Linked DNA regions of Homo sapiens: region 2 is linked to region 1. The links come from fine-mapping of genetic effects on gene expression. A gene starts in region 1. The other region holds a variant in brackets. All regions are shown on one strand. Distances are between the middles of the regions. Region 1 holds the start of FAM8A1 (family with sequence similarity 8 member A1). Region 2 overlaps CAP2 (cyclase associated actin cytoskeleton regulatory protein 2).

Region 1 (12,050 bases):
CACTTCCTAAACCAAGAAAATCGAACTTTGTCAGCCACACCAGAAGCCTGTCCATGTGCTCCATCCCAATCACAAACTCCTTTCACCCCCATCACTACCCTGACTTTTTAAATAACCACTTCTTTTTGCATTTAAGTATATCCCTAGACATTATAGTCTTGCTCATTAATTTAATGTCTTTTATGCCTCCTTTAAGCTATAGGTTCTATTTCTTCCCCCCCCCCCACTTATAATATATATATTGAATAACCCAGTTGTTTACTTTGCAGGGTTCCCCATGGTCTGGATTTTGCAGATTGCACACTCATGGCATATTTCAATATGCTCCTTTGTCCTCTATTTCTGTAAACTGGCAGTTGGATCAAGAAGCTTGAGCACACTCAGGTTTAATCCCTTTGGTAAAACTACACGTTACTATGAATTTATATATTTAAACATATACGATGGGTTTCAGTCCATTCTAATTATTACCTTTATTGAAACTCAAATTGTCCTATCCATGGCCAATAGGAGCCTCTTCTAGTTGGCTGGGTCCTTTGGACATGACTCCAGAAGTCTTTAATCATTTCTCTGCTCTCTAGTATAATAAGATATTTCGTGCTCATTCCATACATTTCCTGCCCTAAACCTAGAACCCCTTGTTTCTTTTAGTGGGACTTGGCATTTCATACTATATATCTATATATCTATATACATATAGATATATGTATATAGTCATGTGCTGCATAACGACATTTTGGTCAACAATGAATGTCATATACCACTGTGATCCCACAAGATTATAACAGAGCTGAAAAATTCCTATTGCCTAATGACATCTTTATTTCATTTTATTTTGAGACAGGGTCTTGCTCTGTCACCTAGGCTGGAGTACAGTGTCGCAATCACTTAGTGACATTTTGATGATCCTGACCCTGTGTAGTCCTAGGCTAATGTGTGTTTGTGTCTTCATTTGTAACAAAAAAAGCTTAAAAAGTAAAAAAAAATAATAATTATCAAAAACTTTAAAAATAAAAAGCTTATAGAATAAGGATACAAAGAATATTTTTGTACAGTTGTACAATGTGTTTGCGTTTTAAGCCAAGTGTTATTACAAAAGAGTTGAAAAGTTTTTAAAAAATCAAAAACTTTATAAGGTAAAATGTTGCAATAAACTAAAGGTAATTTATTATGGAAGAAAAAAAATTTTAAATAAATTTAGTGTAGCCTAAGTGTACAGTTTTGTATCAAGTCTTCAGTAGTGTGCAGTGATGTCCAAGGCCTTCACATTCACTCACCACTGACTCACCCACGGCAACTTCCAGTCCTGCAGGCCCCATTTATGGTAAGTGCCCTACACAGGTGTATCATTTTTAACCCTTTATACTGTATTTTTACTGTATTCTCTATGTTTTGATATATTTAGATGTACAAATACCACTGTGTTACAACTGCCTGCAGTAATCAGTACATTAATATGCTGTACAGGTTTGTAGCCTGGGAGCAATAGGCTATACCATATAGCCTAGGTATATAGTAGGCTGTACCATATAGGTATGTGTAAGTAGTACAGTCTATGGTGTTCCCATAAGGACAAAGTCGCCTAATGATGCATTTCTTAGAACATATCCCTGTTGTTAAGTGATTCATGACTCTGAGAGTGTGTGTGTGTGTGTGTGTGTGTGTGTGTGTGTGTGTAATGTTAGGACACATATATATATGTATTTCAGAAAAAAATTTTTTTGAATTATAATGTGTTATAATTAGTTCTGTTACCTGTCTTGGGTTTTCTTTATCAAGAACTTCTAATCTATATGTTGGATCTTCTTTGCCTATTTTCAATATTTATCATTTCTCTCAAATTATTTCTGTTTACATTTATTTTTGATTAAAAAACTCATTTTCAAATTGTAGTTCTTTTCAGACACTATTGTATTTTCTTATTCTTTTATTCCTTGTATTTTAGTCCTCTTTTCTGAAATCAGTTTTTCTTTTATTTCTAACTCTTTCCCAAGTTCTGTTACTTCATTCCTGAGTTTTTCTTCTGGCTTGTTTTGCTGTTTCATGTTTCATATCATTTTATATCTTTACAGTGACACTGTGCCAGGTGTTACAGAAACAGTGGTATTCAAAACAAAGTCCATGTCTCCAATAATCATATTTCACTCATTCCAAGCCACATTTATTTCTTTGTTTCTGTTTCTCTTTCTTCCCTCACCCCAACTTGGAATGCTTGTTTAAACATTAAAATTTTCTCATAGTTGATTTTAAAATGAAATCTGTAAGGGTAAACTTTTCTAGCTATAGGCTACCATAATCTTTCCCTTATTTTGAATTCTTGAATAAGTTTTCAGTTTTCTTGACAGTCTGTCCCTTGAACCTAGATCATTAGCTTTTTAAGGAAAAAAATTATGGCTTTTTATATCTCCCAGAATAAAGCCAACAATGACTCTGGGGCTGGGCGTGGTGGCTCACACCTGTAATCTCAGTACTTTGGGAGGACAAGGCGGGTGGACTGCTTGAGCTCAGGAGTTTGGGACCAGCCTGGGCAACACAGTGAGACCCCCATCTCTACAAAAAATGAAAAAAATGAGCCGGGGGCAGTGGCACGTGCCTGTAGTCCCAGTCACTCGGGCTGAGGTGGGAGGATAGTTTGAACCTGGGAGGTCAAAGCTACAGTGAGGAGTGCCTACACTGCTGCACTCCAGCCTAGGTGACAGAGTGAGACCCTGTCTTTAAAAAAACAAAGAAAGAAAAAAAAAAAGAATGACCCTGGGCATTGTTGGAACTCAGAAAACCATACCCCAAAATGAAGACCTCAGAAGCAAAAGATTTTTCCCACCTTCTCCAACCCTCCTGTCTCAATCCCATTCTTCCCCCCACCCCCACCCACAAGGCTAGTCATAGAAACTGGAATCCGTCTTTCCCAAAGCAGGGCATAGAAACCAAAACCCCACCCTTTCCCAAAGCCAGCCACAAACCTAAAAATATTACTCTAACCTCCCTGCACCCCTTTCTGTGCAAATATTGGACATAGAGAAATTATCTGGCAGAGCGCAGTGGCTCACGCCTGTAATCCCAGCACTTTGGGAGGCCGAGGCGGGTGGATCACCTGAGGTCAGGAGTTCAAGACCAGCCTGGCCAACATGGTGAAACCCCGTCTCAACTAAAAATACAAAAAAAATTAGCTGGGCGTGATGGCGGGCGCTTGTAATCCCAGCTACTTCGGGAGGCTAAGACAGGAGAATCACTTGAACCTGGGAGGGGGAGGTTGCAGTGAGCCGAGATCGCACCATCGCACTCCAGCCTGGGCGACAAGAGCAAAACTCTGTCAAAAAAAAAAAAAGAAGGAAAAGAAAAATTATCTGACCTACCTTGTTTAACTGTTGTAGGCCACAGCCCCCATTCCAGAGGGTCCTGTTCCATACCCAGAAGGAATGAATGCTGCAGACAGGCCAAGGAGAATCCAGATAGGCCTTGCTGGGTTTCTTGCCTGTTTGCATCAGAGTGTTTTTTGTCCAGTCATTTTTTTTGAGACGGAGTCTCGCTCTGTCGCCCAGGCTGGAGTGCGGTGACGCAATCTCGGCTCACTGCAAGCTCCGCCTCCCGGGTTCACGCCATTCTCCTGCCTCAGCCTCCTGAGTAGCTGGGACTACAGGCGCCCGCCACCACGCCTGGCTAATTTTTAGTATTTTTAGTAGAGACGGGGTTTCACTGTGTTAGCCAGGATGGTCTCGATCTCCTGACCTTGTGATCCGCCCGCCTCAGCCTCCCAAAGTGCTGAGATTACAGGCGTGAGCCACCGCGCCCGGCCTTGTCCAGTCATTTTTTTATACGGCTGTCCATGCTTTGTTGAACCTAAGCATACAAATACACGATTTCCCTTGTTATCTTTGGGTCTTCATTCTGAAGGCTCCCGTGTCACATAAAACGATGGTCAAATCAATGTCTATGTCTTTTCTCCTATTAACTGCCTCCTGTCAGTGACTTTCAGCGAAACTTCAGAAGGTGAAGCGGAAGTTTTCCTTTGGCCCGGACAGCATCATCATTAATATCATTAATAAATATTCCCACAGTATTTGGCCCTTGTATGTCCTTTGTATGGTGCTGGGGATACAATAACATATCGCTGCAGAGATTTTCAAATGTAAAAGAAGAGAGATTATACTGATTTAAAAGCTAGATTCTGTCCTCACCCTGGAGCTAGTCTGCATTTACGAAAACTTACTTTCCACTGCGGTAGACAGACGCTTTCTACTCCAGCGCAACTGTGCCTTTCCTCAAATCTAGTCTCAAATTTAGGTTCCTTTTCATTTTCTGTTATGGAAAGGCCCTCAGCGTATCCCAGGCTTTGGAGCCTTTTGTTAGTAGTCTGGCCCATGCATAATTTCCCCTTCCTCTGAATTATACATAGCACCTCACTAGTTATATTTTAATACACTTTCCTATGTCTCAGTGGTAGTTTCCTATATTAATATATATCCCAGTTTAGTTTGGCTTTTAATTTCTTTTCTTCTAAGGGGATAGATGCGTTCTGTACCACCTTCTCGAGTACTAATGGTTAACTGGAATGAACACAAGCAACAAACCCTCCGGCCTGGATCCCAAAACAACAGTCGCGGTTCTGCAACAGAAAAGGCTGCGCTGGCCCTGGGACCTGTCTCGGAAATACTCCTCATCCATCTAGTTTCTCCCAGGACAACTAGGCCCAACCCCACGGGAATATACAGAGAGGCCTCGGGTCACAGACTTAAAGCTGTAAAAGGGAGGAGGCGACGGTCTGGTCCCAGTCACCGACCAGCCACCGACTACTAGGGCCCGAACCCGGGACTGCAGACGCACCTCCCCGCCCTCCCTTCCCAGCTCCGCCTGGCGGCGGGCGTTGCTCCTGAGGGGCGGGGCTTCCGCTTCCGGCGGGGGATTGTTGACGCCTGCGGTTGCTGCGGTGGTGACGGGGCTGTTGGGGAGGGGCCATTGGGGGAGGGAAACGGAGCAGTGACAGGTATCCCAGAGGGTGCTGCTGAGGCGACGATGGCCGAGGGGCCCGAGGAAGCCCGAGGCCACCCTCCCGGGCAGGACGATGGCGGAGGGGACCACGAGCCCGTCCCTTCCCTGAGAGGCCCTCCTACCACCGCCGTCCCATGCCCCCGCGACGACCCCCAGGCCGAACCCCAGGCCCCGGGCCGGCCCACAGCCCCGGGCCTCGCGGCTGCCGCCGCAGCCGACAAATTGGAGCCGCCGCGCGAGCTCAGGAAGCGCGGGGAGGCGGCCTCCGGCTCCGGTGCAGAGCTGCAGGAGCAGGCGGGCTGCGAGGCGCCCGAAGCCGCGGCGCCACGAGAGAGACCAGCTCGGCTGAGCGCCCGCGAGTACTCCCGGCAAGTGCACGAGTGGCTGTGGCAGTCCTACTGCGGCTACCTCACCTGGCACAGCGGCCTGGCCGCCTTCCCAGCCTACTGCAGCCCCCAGCCCTCCCCGCAGAGCTTCCCTTCGGGCGGCGCTGCAGTCCCCCAGGCCGCGGCGCCGCCGCCCCCGCAGCTGGGCTATTACAACCCCTTCTACTTCCTGAGCCCCGGGGCCGCGGGGCCTGACCCGCGGACAGCTGCCGGCATCAGCACCCCTGCTCCAGTCGCGGGCCTGGGACCCCGGGCTCCTCACGTGCAGGCGTCGGTCCGGGCCACTCCAGTGACGAGGGTAGGATCCGCAGCCCCTTCGCGAAGCCCGAGCGAGACCGGGCGACAGGCAGGTGAGAAGCGCGAGGTGGAGGCTGGGCGGAGTAGAAGGGTTTTCGGGGGCCTGTGGGGTAGAGCTGGCACGCTTTTTAGACCTGTAACTGCTGCTTCTACTCTGATTGACTATCCTGCCCGTTCAGTTCACTAGCTATCGTTTGTCCAGGCCCTAAATTCCCAAAATGTACAAGGAGGCAATACAGTTTCTTCTTCCTTTAGACCTGGCACTCCAAATTGACTCCCTTACTCATGGGACTAGTTGTTTATTCGTGAAAAGAAATTGCTCTTCAAACCATCCTCTTCCTTTGGTTTTCACGCTCTGCAGTGAGGGCCAAAGCTAAATTCGCAAATGGCAAACCCACTTTTGGAGGGGCTCGACTGGTAATGCTGAAAATTATTCAGACATTGGCTACTTAGGACAGTGGAACTGAACGGATATAAAAGGAGATCGACATGGATACAAGTGGAGTTAGGAAGTTTTGATTGGGTCAAAGCTTCACTTCATTTGATCAATATCTTGTATATTGTGTAATTGTTTTTGCTTCTGTGTGTGAACTAGAATATTTTGAATTAGTTACACTTCTTAGTTTACTATTTAAACTATTAGACTTTTAGTTTATTTTAGTTAGCCACAGATAGATGGGACAAGAACTAGTTGATGCCTCTGATCCCAGTCAGAATTTAGGATGACAGATTGATACTCACTGGGTTTATTTTAAAGAAAGCAAAACAAACTAAAAAACGGGTGGGGGGGGATTACAGGGATTTACTTTATACTAATTGCCAATATTTAACCTTGATTTGTACTAAAAAATGTTTAATTTTGTGTGACTTAGATGTGATCACCTGGATTCTCCTCATTAGAATTCCTAGTGAAATGTAGTGGGTACCCTAATCAAATTTATCTGTGAAATCAGTTTTCTAGGGGGAAAGTGGGGAGGGTGGGGACAAGGTCTGCTTCTATCGCCCAGCCTGGATAGTGCAGTGGCGATCTTGGCTCCCTGCAGCCTCCGCCTCCCAGGTTCAAGCCGTCCTGCCACCTCAGCTTCCCTAGTAGCTGGGACTAAAGGCATGCGCCACCACGCCCGGCTAATTTTTGTATTTTTTGTTGAGACGGGGTTTCGCCATGTTGGCCAGGGCCAGACTGGTCTCGAACTCCTGGCCTCAAGCAATCTGCCCGCCTCGGCCTCCTAAAGTGCTGGGATTACAGACGTGAGTCACTGCACCTGGCCGTGTGAAATCAATTTTTAAACGTTAAGGTGATGAAAGCAAACTTTAAGCTCAGTAAATAGTGGATTCTCTGTTACTCTATTTTAGTAACATGGATTCTTGGTGGAATCAATATCAATAGTTGCTGCACGGTTATAAATATTTTTTATTAAGTTGTACCTTGACTTTCTTTAGCAATTCATTACATGGCTTGTGTTCCAAGGCTTATGTGAAATGATTCGTTTTTCCTAACTTTTTTTTTTTTTTAATTTACAGGCAGAGAATATGTTATTCCATCCTTGGCCCACAGATTTATGGCAGAGATGGTGGATTTCTTTATTCTCTTCTTTATAAAAGCAACCATTGTCTTAAGCATTATGCACCTCAGTGGGATAAAGTAAGTTGAGGACATTTGCAGAAGGGTTTTAATTTCTACTGTTTAATGATCTTGTTTTATTACATTCTGTTTGTCTACACGTGACTATATGGATAATGGGCTTGTCAGTGTCATGATTTCTTTATAAGAGCTTTGTTAGATTTATTGTTTTCTTGTTGATTTTAAGAAATAACTAGAAAGGAAAAAAAATAGCTTACTGAATTCTATAAGATGTGTGGGAATCTCACCTATCAAAAATAGGTAAAAAGAGCCTCCAAACCTGCTTTGATTTTATTCACCTATTCTTTTAGGCCAGGAACTAATTTACCTCTCACTATCCTGTTCCCTCTTGCTATCTTGTGGAGTCTCTAAAGACAAAGGTATAAAGAGCTTTTGGTAGGTGAATTAATAATCAACTAGATGGCATTTCCAAATGGGATTGCACATACTGTGGGGCAAGTCCCAAGTGAACTTCAAAGTGAGACGTTTATTTGAGTAATCCTTCCAGATTAACAATAATCATAATAGCAGTTACCACTTCCTGAGTACTTTCTATATGCCATGTATTGAGCTTGCTCACTTCTTTATGTGGATTCTTATTTAATCTTAATACCAAGATGAGGTGTAGAGATTAATACCACCATTTTATAGAGTTTGAAATTTGGGTTTATGAAAAGTTGAGCACAGAACCTAAAATGTTACAAAGGTAGTAAGTGACAGAGTCAAGATACAAGCCTGTGCAGTCAAATTTCAGGGTCCTTGCCAGAAACCTGTTACTGTGATTCCTCCCTGTCCCTCCCTCTCACTCCACTCCACATCCAGTGAAATACCAACTCCTTTATGTTCAATTTTCTGAATAGCTTTCAACCCCAGACCTCCTCACTGCCAGATCATTTTTCTTTTTTTGAGACAGAGTCTTGCTCTGTCACCCAGGCTGGAGTGCAGTAGTACAATTATGGCTCACTGCAGCCTTGATCTCCTGTGCCCAAGTGACACTCCCACCTCAGCCTCACAAGGAGCTGGGACCACAGGCATGCTCCACCATGCCTAGCTAATTAAAAAAAAAAATTGTTTTTTGTAGAGATGGGGTCTCCCTATGTTGCCCAGGCTGGTCTCAAACTCCTGGGCTCAAATGATCCTCCTGCCTTAGCTTCCCAAAGTGCTGAGATTACAAGCATGAGCCACCACACCTGGCCCATTTTTTATCATCATTGCTTCTCCCTACTCCGATTACTGTCGTCTCTTGCTTGGATTATAGCAGAAGCCTTCTAGTGGTAACTCAGTCTCCTGTTTTATCTCAATCCAGTCTCTGATATAAAACCAAAGTGATCATAAATCCTGGTTCTGTTCCTTTCCTACCTTAAAACCCTTCAATGGTTTCTCTTTTTAAAATGTTTATTGTTTTTTTAGAGATGGGGTCTGTGTTGCCCAGGTTGCTTTCAAAATCCTAGGCTCAGGCGATCCTCCCACCTCAGCCTCCCAAAGTGCTGGGATTACATGCGTGAGCCACCATGCTCAGCCCCTTCAATGGTTTCTCTTTACCAGCAGGATAAAGTCTGAATTTCATCATGTGGTTTATACTCAGGAGGCTGTCTCAACCTCCCAAGTAGGTGGGACTGCAGGTGCATACCACCACACCCTGCCTTTATTTCTTAATCACTGCCACCTCTCACATTTAGTATATGAGCCACACCAAACTGCTTACAGCTTCTATCATATTCTCTCTTTCTCCAAGACATTCTCTCCTGCTGTTCCCTCTTTCTGGAACGTTATTTCCTCTTCTTAGTCTGGCTAACTTCTCTTCATCCTTCAGAGCCTCATCTAACTGTCTTTTCTGGGAAACCTTCACAAGGTTAAGTGTATCTGGTGTATGTTTCCATAGTATCCTAGGTTCCCCATCACAGCACTCATCCCACTTTATTATTGCTATTTATTTATTGTTCTGTTTTCTTTGCTAGGTTAGACCCTCCACGAAAGCAGGGACCGTGTAAATTCATTCACCCTTATTTCCCCCGTGCTAGTACAGTGTCTGCTCATGATAATGCTGCTTATTTGTTGAATAAACTAATGAATGCTTTATGATACTAGATGGTTGGGAATCTAAAGATTAGTTTAGAATTTCAATTAAAATGTATGACTTGCACTAATGAAAAAAAAGTCAGTGCTACTGTTCTGGTAACTAATTATTTATAACCCCAAACTATTATTTTGTGTAGGGATATCTCTAAGTTTGCTATGCATTATATAATAGAAGAAATAGATGAAGACACATCAATGGAAGACTTGCAGAAAATGATGGTTGTGGCACTTATATACAGATTATTAGTTTGTTTCTATGAGGTAAGCTACTGACTTCAGCAAGAATTAATATTTAACAATCTAATTTTATGTTTTTACATTTATTTTTTTGAGACAGAGTCTCGCTCTGTCACCCAGGCTGGAGTGCAGTGGTGTGATCTTGGCTCACTGCAACCTCTGCCTCCTGAGTTCAAGTGATTCTCCTGTCTCAGCCTCCTGAGTAGGTGGGACTACAGGTGCATACCACCACACCTGGCTAATTTTTGTATTTTTAGTAGAGACAGGGTTTTGCCATGTAGGCCAGGCTGGTCTCAAACTCCTGGCCTCAGTGATCTGCCCACCTTGGCCTCCCAAAGTGCTGGGATTACAGGCATGAGCCACTGCACCTAGCCAACAATCTAATTTTAGATTATCAGCCCAAGACGAAAAAGTAATCGAAATTTATAATTATTCATGTCTTTTCCACATGTCTACTTTTCTGTTTTTTTTCCCAAATTTTAACTAATCATTAAGTAAAAACTTTTGGAAGAGAGACATTTTACAATTTCTTTGTAATATTTTTCAGTCTTAGAAACTCAAATAAAATTTCACTTATAGATTGTGGTCCAAAAATATACTTGTAAATTGCAATGTAGTTTTCTGCAGAAGCAGCTTACTAGAAAGTATAGTAGTCATAGAGAAATATTACAGGAGACAGACATCTTGTGGTATTGGACATGTTAGAGACCTACAGAAATGCATAAAGTTAAATGGTTAACTTTTGAGTATTCTATGCAATTCTTTCAACTTGAAAAATTTAAAACATGAAATAATATGGTGGGAAAAGTTTATCTTTAAAATTGGTATAGTTGAGCCAGTAATTTTTAAATCATCCTTCTTTCCTTAGATAATTTGCATTTGGGGAGCAGGTGGAGCTACCCCAGGGAAGTTCCTGCTGGGGCTTCGAGTTGTGACATGTGATACATCAGTGCTTATTGCACCAAGTCGGGTTTTAGTGATTCCTTCCTCAAATGTTAGCATTACAACGTAAGTCCTTTTCTTAGCTTAATCTACTACATACTTAATGAAAATAATGTGTTTTAGAATATTGGGGTTTTTTTCTTCATAGTAGATAGGCTTATATTTATTAAGTTAAAACAAAGTTTGAATATTTATTTCAGTTGTGTTACATGATTGTAGACCTCTTTTACAGTACACATTTTCAAGATGATTTTTTTTTTTTTTTTTTTGTGAGACGGAGTCTCACTCTGTTGCCCAGGCTGGAGTGCAGTGGCACAGTCTCGGCTCACTGCAGGCTCCGCCTCCCAGGTTCACGCCATTCTCCTGCCTCAGCCTCCCGAGTAGGTGGGACTACAGGTGCCCGCCACCACGCCCGGCTAATTTTTTGTATTTTTAGTAGGGACGGGGTTTCACCGTGTTAACCAGGATGGTCTTGATCTCCTGACCTCATGATCCACCCGCCTCCGCCTCTCAAAGTGTTGGGATTACAGACGTGAGCCACCATGCCCTGCCTCAAGATGATCATTTTATGAATTATAAGTCACAATACGAGAGGATGATTTGGGTGTTGATGGTGTATTAGTGCTCCACAATCAGCTTTATTATTCTTTGGACCTGTGGATGTTAGGTCAGGTACTAGTCTGCCTTGAGTCTCCATTTGGCCATGCCTGTCATTATTCCATCTTGAATAGGCAGCAGAGTTTTGACAGCTATGCATTCGTGCATCCTTCTCCTGCTGTTAGGTGAGAGCTTGTAATACTGCCAGTATTCAAGGTTAGCTGTTGGCATCTAGCGCTGGGGGAAGGTACAACCAGTGATAATGGAAACTGTGGAGGTCAGTGGCTGGTAGTCAGTTGAGCCAAACAAGGTATTGGCTGCAATTTTTGCCAGAATGATTCAGAGCTGGATTGTTACATCAAGAAATATAAACAAGTGATTCTAGAAACCTTGGTTTTGCCATCTTCAAATTTTTCTTAAAATTTGGTAGTTATAGCCGGGCACAGTGGCTCACGCCTGTAATCCCAGCACTTTGTGAGGCTGAGGTGGGCAGATCACGAGGTCAGGAGATCGAGACCATCCTGGCTAACATGGTGAAACCCCGTCTCTACTAAAAATACAAAAAATTAGCCGGGCGTGGTGGCGGGCCCTGTAGTCCCAGCTACTCAGGAGGCTGAGGCAGGAGAATGGCATGAACCCGGGAGGCAGAGCTTGCAGTGAGCTGAGATTGCACCACTGCACTCCAACCTGGGCGACAGAGCAAGACTCCATCTCAAAAAAAAAAAAAAACAAAACAAAACTGGTAGTTATAAACCTACCTACTTCTTTTAATAAGAGTCAGTAATGGCTAATGTTTATTGAGTACTTTTTATATACCTGCACTGTTAATAACACTGCATATGTATTAATTTAATGCTAACAACCTCATAAGATAGAGACTATTGATCTATATCTATAGTATCATA
Region 2 (12,050 bases), 79 kb before region 1:
CATAGCACTGAAATGCACAGTGCAAGATACAACTAAGCGGATTGTTTTTTTTTTCCTAACCACAACATTGTGACTTTTGAGAAGAGAATTCAAAAACATGTGAAGGGTTTTAATAAGTAAGGGTATGTGTGGATATGGATGGGTGTTTATGTAGACTAATTGGAATTATTTTTTATCGATTTCCAATGAGATAGTGTTTTGTTGTACAGCCATGTATCATAAAGAGAAAGTGTCACATCTTTGCCATGGTGATAGATCATTATTAGAGAACAGTAAAATGAAAATCAGGAGCCCTTGGCTCTATTATTATTTCATGGTAGATAAAGGCCAGAGGAATGAGAATCCATTTATGGAAAATAGTGTCAACAAATGCTAGCCTGTTAATTCTCTAATGGTGCCCATGGAAAATGAATAGAAAATTACTTTTAAATGGTTTGAATACCTTTAATGCAATGTGCAAAGCTGAGTAATTGTGTTTATGAATATAAAAGAGAATTGATTATTAATTACAGAAAAATATAAATGTAGTTGTCTTCCTTTGTTCTAAAGTGAATACTTATTATGTTCAAGCTTCACAAAACAATACTTGCTCTTACTATGTACAACACATTCAGATATTTTATTTTTTATTTCATTTTTTATAAAATTCTGGCTGAGACCCAATAAATTGATTTCATGACCCCACTAGTGAGTCATATCTCACATTTTTTAAAATGTGTTATAAGCTAGGTGTGGTGGCTCACGCCTGTAATCCCAGCACTTTGGAAGGCTGAGGCAGGTGGATCACCTGTGGTCAGGAGTTTGAGACCAGCCTGGCCAACATAGCAAAACACTGTCTCTACTAAAAATACAAAAATTAGCCAGGCATGGTGGCGGGCACCTGTAATCCCAGCTACTTGGGAGGCTGAGGCAAGAGAATCGCTTGAACCCGGGAGGCAGTGGTTGTAGTGAGCCGAGATCGTGCCACTGCCCTTCAGCCTGGGCAACAAGAGTGAGACTTGGTCTCAAAATAAATAAATAAATAAATAAATAGTTATAAAACGTGTTACATTTATACAAAATAAATATGATCCATAGAGCACATCAGGCATCATGGATTGCCATGACAGCTGTTATTTATATTATACATATTATGTGCTCACATAATATGCCAGGGGAATATTCTATTCAAAATGGTAAAAGCAAAGCATCTACTTCACTTCTCTAATGGAAGAGAAAATGATAAAGTTTTGGTCAGATATTAAAAATGATTAAAAATCTTTTGTCAAGCTTTAAAACATATGCCTAGAAATATATTTCCTGATTTTTTATCTTATTCTTCCAAGGTTTGGGCAGCTATTAAAAAGTATATTATAACAATTATATTTTTGAATTTTAAAATCAAATTTCTTTTAAATTATTAAAAACGACTTAAAGATTCCAAAGCATAGTCCATAGCATAAATCAAGCTAATTTCTCCTCTCTGACTGTGGCCTGTCGACATTCCAGCAAAATGGAGGATAAACAGTTATAGCCAGAGTTGCAGCATTCTTGCAGAGAAGAGAAAAGGACTCCTAGAATCATCTGATTGAATGGTCTTTGGGAGGAAAAAATAAAGCAAGACCATTTCATTTGTTTGCCCACTGATCACAACTCTGTAAAAACTATGTATTTATAAAATGATAAATATCATGAAAGACTATAGAAAGATGTGGTGTTGATGTTTGTGGACACCACAGTATTCAGAGATTTTTTTTTTAATTTAATTTTTTTGTTTTTTTGAGACAGGGTCTCACTGTGACACCCAGGCTGGAATGCAGTGGCACAATCATGGCTCACTGCAACCTTGACCTCTTGGACTCTAATGATCCTCCTGCCTCAGCCTCCCGAGCAGCTGGGACTACAGGCCTGCACCACCACACCTGGCTAATTTTTTTATTTTTTGTAGAGACAGAGTTTTGCCATGTTGCCCAGGGTGGTCTAGAACGCCTCAGCTCAAGGAATTTGCCCACCTCGGCCTCAGAAAGTGCTGGGATTACAGGCGTGAGCCACCACATCCAGCCCAGAGGTTTTTCAAAAAAACCCATTCCATCTTAACAGACACAGTCCATTGCACAAAACTCCTACTTGCACCGTGAAAAGTTTATGACGACTTAACATCTCAAGTACTTTCAGTAATTGTTGTTTTTTTCTATTTTCAAATTGGATTTTGAGATTTGCACTCTGTGGGGTTTTTAGTGACTGACAGCCTGCTGTTTGAGACCTGGACTGTCCAAGGGCACGTGGCTCTACAAAATCATCCTTCCCTGAGTTAACAGTTGGAGCTGAAAGTCCCTGATCCCATCTCCTAACCTCTGCCTCCAGACCGCAGCTGTGTCAGGCAACTGCTGCCCTGTTCAGTTGTCAGGGTGAAATGCCAAACTTTGAGACCAGCGATTTGAAGAGAGTCTACGTGTGTGTGCAAGTGTGCCGGGTGGGGTGGGGTGAGTTGGGTGGGAGGAGGCAGCTGTGGAATAATCTGTCTGGAATGTCTTCTTACATTTACCATGGTAAATGGAATCTTGTCATTTCTATGAGCTTTTTTCCAACTTATTAAGACAGCTGTCAACTAGAAAGACCCCACACCAGAAACTAACTTGCTGTTTTCAGTTAGTTTCATCCTTGGGACTGGACCTCTTTTTCATATGAGTTTGTGTCATTTCCTCAGTGCTAAGTTTCAAATGCACTTCGTTGAACAAATTGATCTTTTGGCACAAACCCATTAGCAGCACTGTTACTTAGGATCCCTCGCAGTTGGTCAGAGCTGTAATATTCCTTGGCATTTCCTTCAAATCAGATAACTAAAGTCGAAAGACTAAGGCCTAGTCTTTACCCTTATAATTATTGAAATAATTGACTTTTTTCCTACAAAACTCTTCATTTCTGTGAATCTATAAATGCAGACTATTATCCTGTTCTAAAAACAGACTATTATCTGTTCAGAAAATTCTGCTCAGATAAAGGTCATGTAAAGAATTCTATGATTAGGAGAAATGTGATTATTTTATTAACTTTCGGTTGTTAAACTTGTTGACATATTTCTGTCCTTTCCTATATTTCTGAATTACTTTAGCTTTGGGATCAAATAAGATATAATTATTTGTAGAGTAGAATAAAACTGCACATGGATGAATGTATATACAGTCTTATGTAATAGTGATGTAGTTCTATTTTTTTTGTTGTTACTGTTTTTTGTTTTGTTTTGTTTTTTTGATACAGAGTTTCGCTCTGATGCCCAGGCTGGAGTACAGTGGCACGATTGCAGCTCACTGCAGCCTTGACCTCCTGAACTCAAGCAGTCCTCCTGCCTCAGCCTCCTAAGTAGCTGAGGCTACAGGCGTGCACCAACATGCCTGGCTAATTTTTATATTTTTTTTGTAGAGACGTGATTTCACCACGTTGCCCAGGCTGGTCTCAAACTCCTGGGCTCAAGTGATCCGCCTGCCTTGGCCTCCCTAAGTGCTAGGATGATAAGCATGGTAGGATGATAAGCTGCACCCAGCCAATGTAATTCTTAATAATACGGGTTTTAAAAATCCATCCTATACACTATCATCCATCCTAGCCTCTCCTGAACCTCCAGGAAAATGCAAGTCGTTGGTGGTGGTTACAATTATAGACAAGGTGGCGTTTCATTTTTCCCAAAGCAAAATGCTTTAGGATCACTTCTTTTCCTCCAGGTAGATATTTCTTTTCTTTCTGTTTCTTGGTGTAAAGGCCAAATGTCTGTTAACAAAGTGAAAGTTTAATAGCTTACTTTTGATCAAATTAAAACTCAGCCAGAGGGTATCCCGACTTATTATAAATAATGTAGACTCTGTGGCATGTCATTAACTATGAATATGTATGCCTTGTACGTTTTCAAGTCTTCAGGCCTCTTTACCTTCCTCTTGCTATTTACAAGAGAAAACTGTTCTTAAGCTTTTATATCCAAATTTTCATTTAGAACTTGTACCAAACCCACACCTTAGGGGTATTAATCAAAGTGAATGGGCAGCGCCTCAGATGATGTGTTGGTTGTCTGATGACAAAGCTCACTGTTCTCTATGGCTCTTCCCACGGAGTGGCCCTGGCCAGTGTACCTGACCACAGCTGCGTCGTTCTACTTAGTTCAGTTTGGGCTTCTAGGTCCCTTCTGGGGCTCTGGGTGGCCAGTTACTCTTATTCTCTTATGGAAGGGTTCCACATTGCTCAACAGGGGTTAGAAGTGTCATCAACTGGCTGGGCGCAGTGGCTCATGCCTGTAATCCCGGCATTTTGAGAGGCCGAGGCGGGCAGATCATGAGGTCAGGAGATCGAGACCATCCTGGCTAACACGGTAAAACCCTGTCTCTACTAAAAATACAAAAAAAAAAATTAGCCGCACAAGGTGGCGGGTGCCTGTAGTCCCAGCTACCGGGAGGCTGAGGCAGGAGAATGGCATGAACCTGGGAGGCGGAGCTTGCAGTGAGCCAAGATGGCACCACTGCACTCCAGCCTGGGCCACAGAGCGAGACTCCGTCTCAGAAAAAAAAAAGAAGTGTCATCAACTAACAAAGAAGCCTCAAATGCACAGGTAGATAGTAAAGTTAGGTTGGAAGTGGCTGTGAGTTCAGCCTGACAGAGACCACATAATTAAACCAATATGGCTTAAGCATCTACTATGCACTGAGTTCTGGGCAAGGGGCTAAGAATACAAAGATGGGTAGATGGCATTGTGGACACGATTCCTGTCCACGGAAACGCGCATTCTAGCTGAAGAAGATGAGCAATGCACCATGATAGAACAGGGGGAGCAGTGTGCTAGGGAATCCACACAAGGCATGACGCTTGCATAGACCAGGACCACGTGGAAGATACGGCCCATCCTGTAGTGCAGCATGGTTCTGGGGCCAACAGCAACCTGGGCACTTGTTAGAAAGCTCAGGCCCCTTGATTGGGCGCGGTACCTCAAGCCTGTAATCCCAGCACTTTGGGAGGCTGAGGCGGGTAGATCACCTAAGGTCAGGAGTTCGAGACCAGTGTTGCCAACATGGTGAAAACCTGTCTCTACTAAAAATACAAAAATTAGCTGGGCGTGGTGGTGCAGACCTGTAATCCCAGCTACTCAGGAGGCTGAGGCAGGAGAATCGCTTGAACCTGGGAGGTGGAGGTTGCAGTCAGCCTGCATTGCACCACGGGACTCTAGCCTGGGCGACAGAGCAAGACTCTGTCTCAAAAAAGACAAAAAGGAAAGAAAAAAAAAGAAATCTCAGGCTCTCAGGCCCCACCTCAGCCCTCCCAAATCACAACCTACTTTTCAACAGGATTCCCAGGTAATTTATATGCATAGTGAAGTTCGAAAAGCACTGCTCTACTGTATTTAAGTTGGGCCAAAGGAGTTGTTATAGGGAAATCATTCACTTTTACACGTTCATTTATTTAGTAATTCACTTCCTTGGTAACTACTTATTGGCTACTTACCATGTACCAAGCACACACCAGGCATTATATTTATACTACAGTTCTTCCGTGAAGCAGCAGGGTTTTTATTATGATGCATAAATAAATAACAGCAATACAAAGCTAGGTTGGAAAATAAGCCTTGTGAATTAGACTCCTTCCTGGGTGGGCACGAAGAGCCACAAAAGGGCTGACACTTGATTTGGATCTTGACGGTGAGCAGGAGTTCCCTAGGCAAACAGTAAAGGGAAGGGCAGTTTTGGGGCAGAGAATTCAGCATATGTA[C/T]GTAAGACATGAACAATGTACTTTGAGAGAAAGGCTGGTGGTTTTGCAGAGCTGAATGTGGCAAAAGGTGAGGCCAGAAAGGCAGGTTGGGGCCAGATGGTGAAATCCTTATGCATTATGCTAAGAAGGTGGGGCTATGTAGTGTTTGAAGTTGTTTCCTTTGCCATAGGTTTTGTTGTTTGTTTTTTGTTTTTGAGACAGAGTCTCACTCTGTCGCCAGGCTGGAGTGCAGTGGCACGATCTCGGCTCATTGCAACCTCCGCATTCTGGGTTCAGGTGATTCTCCTGCCTCAGCCTCCAGAGTAGCCGGTACTACAGCCATATGCCACCATGCCTGGCTGATACCTCAGGTGATCCACTCGCCTTGGCCTCCCAAAGTGCTGGGATTACAGGTGTGAGCCACCGTACCCAGCCTGCATGGGTTCTTAAGCAGAAAGCAACACACTGTGAATAATGACTTAGGAATTGCATAAGATAGATGGAGAGGGGAAGAGATTAGAGGCCCTGATACGTGTTGGGAGACTTTAGTGGATGGCTAGAGGGTGAGGTAGTTAGTATGTGACCTAGAGTGTGACAATGGCAATGCAAAGAGATGGAGTAGCCACTGAGTTGGAGGACAAGGGACATAAAATCTAACACAAAATTTCCAATCTGGAAGTCTGGGAGAGAATCGTGGTAATATAAAAATAGGGAAATCGCAAGGAGGAGCTGGTAGAGAAGGAAGAAAAATCTTCACCTGGGGTTTCACTGCATTGTGTTTGAGGTGCGGGAGGTATAGGAGAGACATCCAAACACGTGGAGTCAGGAGGTGAGATTTAGATCTGGAATTCACTGAAGGGGGAGACCCCGATGTACGTGTTGGGAGTCATCTACCTAGAAAAGACCGGCAAATAAATAAGATGGTTAAAAAAGAGAGAGTGAGATCAAGGATAAAACCTTGGAAAACACTATTATTTCAAGAATGGGGTAAACTAATCAAGGAGACAAGAGATAGGAGAACTAGAAGAATGGAGAGTCTCAAAGCTATAGGGAAAACAGGCTGGCCAGTGATACCAACTGTAGTAAGCTGTGGTGAATAAGGATTGGACAAAGGCTGTCATCAGCCATGTTTACCATGTTATTAGTAACCTTCCAAGAGCAGTTTCTGGAGGACTGGAGGCAGATGCAGTTTTACAGAATTAAGGAGTAAAATGTTTTTGTAATCAAAGTACTTTGGGAGGTTGAGGCGGTTGGATCACAAGGTCAAGAGATCAAGACCATCCTGGCCAACATGATGAAACCCCGTCTCTACTAAAAATACAAAAATTAGCTGGGCGTGGTGACGCATGCCTGTAGTCCCAGCTACTCAGGAGGCTGAGGCAGGAGAGAATGGCTTGAACCCAGGAGGCAGAGGTTGCAGTGAGCTGAGATCGCGCCACTGCACTCCAGCCTGGTGACAGAGAAAGACTCTGTCTCAAAAAAAAAAAAAAAAAAAAAAGGAGTAAGAAGTTTTCCTGTAATGATCTCTTGATTATTTCTGGACCAGTTGTCTAATTTGATGGATTATTTCTTATGGCTTCAATTTCTGCCTTTTGAAATTTGGGGTATTTGTGAATTTTCATTTTAATCTGTGCTATATCTTCAATAGAATAGGTGAAAAATAGTCAAATATCTCCAATTTCACACACAGTCATTAAGAGCTATACTGTGAAGCTCTAAGTAAATGTGTTCTATTTAGAACTGTTTTTATTATCTCATAAATACCTTTGAGTTTTAGTGTCAGTTGATAATGATGCAGGGAAGGTGAACCCCAAAAGTGGGGCTTAGCCAGGAGGGTTCTTGGCTTTGCCCAGGCGAGAATTCAAGGGTGAGCCAGCGGTGTTAGACAGCAGCTTCTATGGCAGCAGCAATGTGCAGCAGCAGCAGGGGTACCATAGGAACTGTGCCCAGAGTAGCAGCTCAGGGACCATTCTGCCATTATATTTATATTCACTTTTAATTATAGGCAAATTAAGGGGGAAGTTATTCAGAAAGTTCTAGAAAAGAGGTGATAACTTCCAGGTCATTGCCATGGAAAGGGGTAGTTAGTAACTTCCAGGTGTTGCCATGGCAGTGGTCAACTGACATGGCCCTGGTGGGCATGTCTTCTGGAGAGGTGCTTTCACCTCTTTCCCCCATTGCAGCGAGTCTTCAGTCTGGTTTGGCATTCAAGTCCTGCCCAGCCCCAGTCAAGCCTGCCTCATACCTTAATAAGAATCTATAAATATTTTAGAGTATTTCTTTTCTTTTCTTTTCTTTTTTTTTTTTTTTTTGAGTTGGAGTTTCGCTCTTGTCACCCAGGCTGGAGTTCAGTGGTGGCATGATCTTGGCTCACTGCAACCTCTGCCTTTCGTGTTCAAGCGATTCTCCTGCCTCAGCCTCCCGAGTAGCTGGGACTACAGGTGCGCGCCACCACACCTGGCTACTTTTTGTACTTTTTTTAAAAATAGAAATGGGGTTTCACCATGTTGGCCAGGCTGGTCTCGAAATCCTAACCTCAGGTGATCCTCCCGCCTTGGCCTCCCAAAGTGCTGGGATTACAGGCATGAGCCACCACACCTGGCCATTTTAGAGTATTAAATCTTTCTCTCCATCAATCAAAATAGTAGTAGCTTTTAAAGCTGCCTACTTTAATGGTCAGTATTATTTTATTTACCAGAACTTTTTCATAATCAAGAATTCAAAGCTCTCTAAAATAAGGGCTAGCAAGTTAATATACATTTATTGAACCTGCGAGGCGGTTGAACCTGTGAGGCGGAGGCTGCAGTGAGCGTAGATCACACACTGCACTCCTGCACTCCAGCCTGGGTGACAGAGCAAGATTCCATCTCAAAAAAAAAAAAGAAAGAAAAAAGAAGCTTCTCCAACCTCTGCTTATCACCATGCCCACCACAAGCTGGAAGTTATCCTTCCATCCTCAGCGGCTGCATAGCACTTCTTATACTCTCCATTTCTTTTGTGTTGCTTAGCATTTCCTACCTTATATGGCAGTTATTTTCTCATTCAGTAACATGTTTATGAAGCACTTAACCATGTTTCAGGCACTGTGCCACATTGAAACATGGAATTCCCTCCTAAGAGAGTTCCAAAAACCCTACGAAAGGAGGAAAGACACATTTTGGTTGAGGCTTGAAGGCTGTTTTCCAGATAGTCAGTTGGGCAAGAGCCTTCCAAACTAGACACGCCCTGAGCAAAGACTCAAAGTCTGGGAGCCAAGTGCCTGCCACGTCTGGGAACACAGAAGTATCCTCTCTTCCTAAACTATGAGCTCATTGAATGCAGGCTCCATTTCCAGTTCAGCCTGAGATCAGTAGCAGTGACTGGTACCCTGGTTCTGGGACAGCAGTGACTTGAAAACAGATAGGATTCAAACACATTTGCTAAATCCACTGTATTCATTTGTCATCACAATGAAATTTCCAAAGCGTTAGTCCATTAACTATAGATCATGTCTGTTTTTCAAAAGCTGCATGAAAATGTGTCTTTTTTTTTTTTTTAATGATGGAGTCTCGCTCTGTCGCCCAACCTGGAGTGCAGTGGTGTGAACTCAGCTCACTGCAACCTCCACCTCCCGGGTTCAAGCTATTCTCCTGCCTCAGCCTCAAGAGCGGCTGGGATTACAGGCACGCACCACCATACCTGACTAATTTTTGTATTTTTAGTAGAGACAGCGTTTCACCATGTTGGCCAGGCTGGTCTCAAACTCCTGACCTCAGGTGATCCAACCTTCTGTGCCTCCCAAAGTGCTGGGATTACAGGCGTCAGCCACCGCACCCAGCCAAAATGTGTCTTTCCTTCTGTCCAGTGATAGGAATGGAATGGACAATGCATTTTATTCAGGAACACCCATCAACCGCCCACACCTCCTCTGCTCCTGTCCCTTGTCACCCACTGCCTTTCATTCTCAGTTGGTATAAACTCAGGAAACAGAAGGTAGTATTAACTTAAGCAAAAACTGTTTTCTTAAAAAGGGAAATGGGGGAAGGTGCAGATTATCTTCTAAAGGTAAAACAAACCCTTCATAAAACAGAACACACAGGCTGGGCGTAGTGGCTCCCGCCTGTAATTCCAGCACTTTGGGAGGCTGAGGCAGGCAGATCCCCTGAGGTCAGGAGTTCGAGACCAGCCTGGCCAACATGGTGAAACCCCGTCTCTACTAAAAATACAAAATTAGCCGGGCATGGTGGCGCATGCCTATAGTCCCAGCTACCCGGGAGGCTGAGGCAGGAGAATCGCTGGAACCCAGGAGGCGGAGATTGCAGTGAGCTGAGATCATGCTACTGCACTCCAGCCTGGGCGACAGAGCAAGACTCTGTCTCAAAAAAAAAAAAAAAAAAAAAAGAACACATAGGCAAGCCCTGGCCACGGTTTATTGGTCCAGTCTGCACCCTTGATGCAAACTAAGCATCCCTAAATAAACAAAATGCATATATAATATGGAGCCAAAGGTAACTAATCTTTCTAACAGCTATTGTTTTGCCTTAACCCCCACCTCTACTATCTACTAAGTATAGATAATTGGAGAAAGTACAGTCGTTTCTGTATGCCCCTGAAATCTGAAAGAAAAAAACCTGAATTTAGTGGTAGTTCAGACTTAGGCCCTTCTGGCCAAATGAAGTAGCTGTCCAGCTAATTCAAGCCACATGTCCCTCTTGGTCTTTATATAACTGTTGGGCCTCTTGAGTTTGTTTCTTTGATGAGTATACTCTGCTATCTTTAACCCTGGAAAGTTTTCCCATGGAAAATTTAATTTTATCTTTCCTTTTTTATGAGAAATTGTATTCTCAAGCTGGCAGACAAGAAGAAAAGACAATCTGGAAATTCCAGATTTGATCTAAATGTCAGCAAAGCCAAACTAATAATTATGGCCACATATCAAGGCAATTTATGCAGAATATATGGATCACTTGAGCATATTAGATTGTGTTCATTATATTCTTTTTCATTTTTGTTCTCTTTCTTTTTTTTTTTTTTTTTGAGACAAAGTCTTGCTCTGTCGCCCAGGCTGGAGTGCAGTGGCACGATCTCGGCTCGCTGCAGTCTCGCCTCCCGGGATCAAGCGATTCTTGTGCCTCAGCTTTCTGAGTAGCTGGGATTACAGGTTGTGCCACCATGCCTGGCTAATTTTTATATATTTTGTAGAGATGAGGTTTCACCATGTTGGCCTGTTGGCCAGGCTGGTCTCGAACTCCTGACCTCAAGCGATCCACCTGCCTTGGCCTCCCAAAGTGCTAGGATTACAGGCGTGAGCCACTGTGCCTGGCCATGTGTTCATTATATTCTTCTGGACTCTACTCTGAGGGCTTGGTCTGCTTTTATCAAAAATTTTTACTTTGAGCATGTAGAAAAGAAATCACCACCTATGTTTTTAGAAGGGCCACATCTGGGTATACAGGTAGCAGTTTGAGTACCCATACAGGCATTCTGTTTTTGACTTCAGTACACTATTTAATAAATTACCTGAGATATTCAACCCTTTATTGTAAAATAGGCTTGGTGTTAGAAGGTTTTGCCCAACCGTGGACTAATGTAAGTGTTCTGAACACGTTTACGTTAGCCTAGGCTAAGCCACGAGGTTCAATAGATTAGGTGTATTAAATGCATATTTGACTATTACAATATTTTCAACTTATAATAGGTTTATGGGACGAAACCCCATTATAAGTCAAGGAGCATCTGCATAAATTAGAGAAAAACAAACATAAAGACACTAAGTTACTGGTTTACAGGTACTAATATAGACAGCACATGTTATTCCCAGGCTGTTTTCTGATTTTAAGCTGTTGTTACTTCTCTAAAGCAACTTTGCTTTCTGCTCTGTCTTTTTTTCATGTACTGCCAAAGCTCAGATCTTTCCAGGTCATCAAAGGAATGACATACAGGGACCACAGGAGGGTGGGAGGAGTGGAGAATCATGAAACCATCAGAAATCATCGACGAAACCATGAGATCTGAGTTTTTTGACCTTTCCCCTGGTCTTTGTATCTTGGGATAAGGGTGTTTGGAGCTTTGCCTCTGAAGAAAACGGATCCAAATGGGCCCCACAATTCCTTCATATTTGTGGGACTGTCTTTTTATTTTGACTGTATTTAAGTACCGTTAGTACTTTCATGGAAATCTGAAATTCCAGTAGTGTTCTGTTTTCCCCAAATTGACTTTTTAAAAATTATTAATAAACATATATTTAAAATATTATACAGCACTTCACTGTGGTATTATTAACAATTCTGTGTTCTTGGAAAGGCCCCCAGAAACTTTGTTTTTATTGACAGAAGTCTCAAAATTCTAAGAAGTGGAGCCGGGTGCAG

What was found.
Region 2: its variant is fine-mapped to the expression of FAM8A1 in nasal epithelium (TOPMed, PIP above 0.99).

The regions. Positions count from the first base shown.
Region 1 is chr6:17,595,400-17,607,449 of GRCh38, forward strand. It overlaps FAM8A1 (family with sequence similarity 8 member A1), which reads left to right and starts at 4,903. Exons shown (of 5, transcript NM_016255.3): 1 at 4,903-5,722; 2 at 7,191-7,311; 3 at 9,507-9,630; 4 at 10,475-10,614. The coding sequence starts at 5,011. LOC102724591 (a long non-coding RNA gene) reads right to left here and starts at 3,577. Exons shown (of 5, transcript XR_007059485.1): 1 at 3,354-3,577; 2 at 472-577. RefSeq lists a silencer at 4,762-5,241 and enhancers at 6,308-6,808, 6,809-7,309.
Region 2 is chr6:17,516,896-17,528,945 of GRCh38, forward strand. All of the region lies in intron 7 of CAP2 (cyclase associated actin cytoskeleton regulatory protein 2), which reads left to right. Among named protein-coding and RNA genes, the nearest start is that of FAM8A1, 77 kb to the right of the region's middle. The variant C/T (reference allele first, on the strand shown) is at 5,725.